2 separate regions of the Homo sapiens genome follow, and region 1 is linked to region 2. A link means that fine-mapping ties the variant in region 2 to the expression of a gene that starts in the linked region. Tissue or cell type: whole blood. Region 2 holds a variant in brackets; the other region holds the start of a gene. All regions are shown on one strand. Distances are between the middles of the regions.

What was found. PIP is the estimated chance that this variant, and not a neighbour inherited with it, causes the effect.
Region 1: IVNS1ABP starts here. The variant in region 2 is fine-mapped to the expression of IVNS1ABP in whole blood (TOPMed, PIP above 0.99).

Annotation. Positions count from the first base shown.
Region 1 is chr1:185,315,843-185,318,599 of GRCh38, forward strand. IVNS1ABP (influenza virus NS1A binding protein) reads right to left here and starts at 1,401. Exons shown (of 15, transcript NM_006469.5): 1 at 1,111-1,401. It overlaps CBSLR (CBS mRNA stabilizing lncRNA), which reads left to right and starts at 1,610. Exons shown (of 4, transcript XR_007066771.1): 1 at 1,610-2,435. RefSeq lists enhancers at 727-1,340, 1,990-2,089, 2,340-2,419 and silencers at 830-889, 1,350-1,659.
Region 2 is chr1:185,419,264-185,422,020 of GRCh38, forward strand. No RefSeq gene overlaps it. Among named protein-coding and RNA genes, the nearest start is that of CBSLR, 100 kb to the left of the region's middle. The variant A/G (reference allele first, on the strand shown) is at 1,668.

The DNA of each region.
Region 1 (2,757 bases), 100 kb before region 2:
GTAGACAGAAGACCACGACACACTCAACGAACAGCTTGATGCCAAGGTGTTCTAACGCTCCATCACTGCACGCTCCATCACAAAAATGCGCCCTTTTGGACATCTGATTTCTCCTTGAAATGTCAGCTGTCTCAAACCAATAGATATGTCCACTACCTATTGGGGGAAAAAGTAAATGTAGTTCTCAAGTAGTGGTTCAAGTTACCCTAGGTTCAACCCTCAGCCTGATACCTTCCTATCATCAAGAGCTTATAATCAGAGACACTTAACCAAAAGCGTGGAGGGACGGAAAAAGAGCAAATCTTGCCACTGATTTCTTTCATAAAAAAGAAAGAGCGTCCCAGGCCTTCCTCCTCGCGCAGCCAGGCCGGCGCCCACTCCGCAGGCTGCGAGGCGAGGCCCCCAGCACCCGCACACCCCCGCCCCGGATTGGCCAGCCCCGCAGTCACTCAGTACCGACACGTCAGGGCAGCCGCTCCCTCCCTCCTCCCGCCCCCTTCTCCCCGCGCTTGGCAAGAAAAGCGGGCAACGTGGAGCGGGAACAAAGGACCCCGCGGCCCACGGCGATCGGGGACTCCGTGCCACCCTACTCCAGGCCCGGGGCTGGCTGCCCGCCCACACGAGCCGAGTCTCGAGAGCTCTTCCAGAAGAGAATCCCAAACCCCAGGCAAACCCGAGGCGAGGCGTCCGTTCCTGACAGCAAGAACGGGGAGTCCCGCGCCCTCCTTCCGGCGGGTCATCCCCGCCCGCGGCGCCCTAACCCAGGCCCCCCAAAACCCTTCGAACAAAAAACTCTTGTTCCTCCCAGCCTGCCTCACCCGCGCCAGTGTAGCAAAGGGGCTCCAGCCTCCGCGCTCTCCGAGGCGACCGGCGCCCGCTCTCGGCCGCCAACGCAACTTGGCAACCATGGCAGCGCTGGAGCGCGGGCCCAGCGCGGCGCGGGCTTCACGTCCCAGAGGGCGGCGGCGGCCGCTTGGGGCTGCCTCCCCTGATGAGGACACCGCTTCCGCGCCTCCCACCCTCTTCCCATCCGCCGGCGCCATCCCTTCTTCTCGGATTCTAGCCGCGCCGTCTCCCTCATCTGTCGTTCGTAGAACCAGCGCGTATTACCTGGTTCATCTCTGAAGAGATGGAAACATTCATTTCTAGAGCTTCGATGGGAAGCAGGAGGAAGCGGGCGGGAATCGGCCCAACGGAAAGCGCCAGAAGGCGGCGGAAGACGGGAGCGGTCAAGTAGAAGGACGAGGGGCCAGTCCGTGGAGACTGAAAGGAAGGGGGAGCGCCACCGAGAACTCGCGGGAACTCGCTCGCTCGCCGATACAGCCGCGCCGAAGCAGCAGGCGGAGAAACTGCGCCCAGCAGCTCTGAGCGACCGACCTCCACGCGCGACCGGGAGACACTGCCTCCGCCGCCGCCGACCGCTCGCGCCGCACCCCCTCGCACGTCACCACGTGCGCTGCCGCCGCCGACGCCTCCCAGCCCGCTTCCGTCTCGAATCCATCTGCAAATCACAGGCGAGCTCCATAAAGATCCCACTCTAAGCCCCGCCCCACCCGCGGCCCCGCCCACATCCCGCCCCGCCTTCCTCCCTGGTCTACTGGGGTTCCTTCCTTCTCGGTGTAACTAGGTCAGCGCAAGGTGATCCTGAGGAGATAGGCGGCGCTCGGGGGGCGCCCTCGTTCCTCTTATCGCGCCTTTGTCCCTCCCTCCGTTCCTTGCCCCGCACCCTCACTTTCGCCGCCCTGTGCGTTGCCTGTCCCGGAACTGGTTCCCTCAAGCCGCCCTCACCTGTTCTGACTTCCCCTCGAGGCACAATAGCCTGAGAGATCAGACGTGGGAGATTAGATTGCTCGGCGTCAGACCTACTTCTAGGCAACCCCCCCTAGACTGGAGCTGCTCGTCGTGGACATTAGGATCTAGTTGGGCATGAGCCCTTAACTTAAGGGTCGGGGGGGAAGTGGCGGGTGCGGAGAGGAGGCGTGGAGAGTGTGAGGAAGAAGAGAGGCACTCTGAGAAGAAGTCGAACAACTAACCCCTCATTTGGCCTGGTTTGGGTGAGAAGATTGAGTCACTTGGGGAAAAAAATATTGGAGAAGTCAGAGAAGGTGTAAATCAGTGGTGCCACAAACACCAGTTTACTTCCACTTTTCACCCCCCGGGTCTGTTTTGTCTGCGTGCAGCTCTCCTCGTGTCGGAGACGCTGAGTCAGTTCTCTACTGGTCTTGCCCTCTTCCGGAAAAAGAAAACACACCTGAGAAGTGGTAGTTCCTATCCTAACCTACTGGGGCCCTTTATACCAGGTGCCAAACTTCATTATCCACCCCACCACCTTGCCCGGGAGGGAGATCTGTGAAAGCGAAACGTGATTTAAGCTGGGATCTGGCAGCAACTTCGTGGACTCTGAAGGGCACGTGGGAAAGGAGTTTTGATTGAAGGTGAGGGATTTAGTGAGGTAAAATTATATCCAAATTAGAGTTTGGTAAAGGCTTCCAGGTTAATGTCCTGTTAACGCTTATCCTGATTTGTGGAGGACACTTAAGCTGTCTAGGCCTAACCTTGTGTTTGATCACTCACCTTAATTTGTAGACATTCTAGGAGCTCTTTGTCAATGCCTCTTACCATTTTTATCATTAACTATTTATGCTTATAGAAGCAGGAAAAATAAATTGTGGGAGCCTTCATCTGCAATAGGTTTACAACTTTTTTTCTAAAATCTTGAGGCAAGGAGACTTATTCCCCCGCCCCTTTTTTTCTCAC
Region 2 (2,757 bases):
TTTATATTTCACTGAAATGTTATTCGTCTATATTGTCACAAATTTAATCATAAAACAGAGCTAGGAGAGAAAAATAATGATAGATACTATTTATGAGTTACTTTGATTGCACTTTTCATAAATTATCCTCACTTCAAATAGGAGGCAACCAAGTGTAGACAGGTGAACTTGCCCTTGGTCATAGGGCTAGGATTTGAACAATAGTCTGTGAGGCTAAAGCTTATGTTTTTCTCACTACATTGCTCTAGTCAAACCATATTGCCTCCTGAGGGTAGAATGATGAAGAGAAGTAGCTAAGCACTCTGTAGTCAAAGTTGCTGGTTTAAATACTGGCTCTTATTCTTACTAGCTGTGTGACCTTGGATAACTAATCTAACTTCTCTCTGCTTCAATTTCTTCCTATATAAAATAGAGATAATGTGAGAATTAAATGGGACAAAGTATACACAGCAATTAAACCAATGCTTGCTATACAGCAAGTGTTCAATAGGTGGTACAATTTTTGTTACTACTATTATTGTTATTACTACTGAAAGTAAACAAAAATAAAAAAGAGTGGCTTGGCTGCTTTAAATGAGAAACAGCCCTAAAGTAATGCCGGATGCTCTTGCTGGGTCTGGGAGAACAGCAGATTACTCACTCTGTTGAGTTGTCAAGCCTGGGTGATCCCTGCCTGCCGCACTCACAGTCTGCTGTTTACAGTCCCGAATGCATCCAGTGGAATGGTCCTCCCCATCTGCAGCATCTGGTGCAATGTAGGAGACCCTTCAGCTTCCTCTGGACTGTTTTTCTTTTCTGTTTGTGTCCATCTTCCTTGATCAAACTCCAGAAGGCATATCCCCAATAGTTTTCTCCATTGTGGAGGACCTCTTCCATATTTTATGTGCTAGGATTGTGATATTCTGTTATGGCAGCCCTAGCAGATGAATAATACAGGTAGAATGGTCCTCAGGTGGTCTGAAGCAGGAGATACGGCACTTATGGTGCTCTCTGATGAAGCCTGAGTCAATGGAGGAGCCCGCAGCTGCCGGGTCACTTGGTTTCAGGTTTGTGAGAGTCAGCTGAGGGACAAGAGCTCCGGGAACTTTGAAGGCACCCTCTCGAGAAAGCGTTTTCTGTCTTAAATATTTTCCTGCACAGGTCTGAAATTGTATCAGTAGAAATTCATGTGGGGGTCTTGATGCCTTCTTTAGTTTTCAGCAATCTCATGATAGAATGAGAATGTACCTGGTCACCAGGACGCTGTTGATAGGCTGAGAATGTGGGGTGTGGTTTCTGGAAAAGGACTGCAGGGAAGCCGGCAGTGAAGGACAGATGGGCCAGATCTTTAGGTTCTCTCCCTTCCAGCTTTGCCCAGGACCAGCCTGGATGAGCTTCTCATGGGGCTTACAGAAAGAAGGGTGTTTTGGTTCTTCCTTGAAGGTATTAATACTTACTTCTCTGAATGTGAGGCTCTGGGCTGGGGGCACAAGGCTACAGTGATTGCTTCATTGTTTGGTGGTGGAGTCTTTGAGATCCTTCTTTTGACCTTTCAGGCTCTACAACATTTTGATCAGAAGTTTTTGCTTTTTGTGTAAGGGATGTGGTGCAATTGGGGAAGGTGCTATTGGGGTTTTTAGTGTAAGGGATGTGGTGCAATTGGGGAAGGTGCTATTGGGGTTTTTAGT[A/G]TAAGGGATGTGGTGCAATTGGGGAAGGTGCTATTGGGGTTTTTAGTGTAAGGGATGTGGTGCAATTGGGGAGGGAAGTGTGGAGAACAAACAAAGGAAAGCACACTGGCCAGCCATACATAGTTCAGTAAAACAACACACTTCTGTCCCTGCCGCTACTAAAGTTCTTAAGCTCCCCAACCTTTTTTCTTTTACCTTATCTCTTTTTTGGGCCTCTAGAAGGAAAATATCCGTCTTTTTTTCTTACTACTGACTCCAGTGTGTTTATAACTTTGGTATTTTTGTTTGTCATTGTTTTGGCTTAAATGTGAATGTAAAGGAGAGTTCAACAGCAGTAAATAAAGTGCTGAGTAGCCTGTAGAAATGCTTTTGTATTGAAGTCAGATTAAATTTGTCCTCCAGTAAGATTTCTGTCACTGCCCTCTCTCCTCTGCCTTCCTTCCGCTGGATTCCTTCCCCTAGCATGGCAGGCTATCTCCACACTCTCAGGGTGCTAGCAGCTTCTTGGATTTACTCTTGACTTTTCATGAGATTGTTGGAGACTGAAAACAAAAAAAGCCTTTAAGATCCTAAAACAAATTATAACTAAGGATATAATTTCAGACCACTGGGACACATATGGTGAGGAAGGGAACCCTCCCAATGTTTCCAATAGGTCAGTCTATAATCAACAAGAGTTCTGCACAGGAATGAAACAGAGGATGCTGAGATGGAGAAGAATCAGCATGATTGTATACGAATGAGTGGCAACAGAGATAGCTTCCTCAAAAGGAAGAAATATGCATCACACTCTGTTCTGGGTCAAATAGAATGTTACAAATTATAGGAAAGAAATGATCTAGGTAATTATTTTTATACCATTTCACTTAAAACCCTTCATTTTCTTTGAATGGTAGTCATTTGTTTTCTTTCTAGGTGGGGTGATGGAATAACCATCTGCCAACGTATGGCCCCAATGTGTAGGGAGTGGTCACACACCAGGGTGTGAGAAATGCATATTTTTCTCAGTGTGTGGGCTCATGGATGAGAGAGAAATAGCCACTGACAACGTGGGGGAAAAGAAATACCTTGACTAAATCATATGGCATTC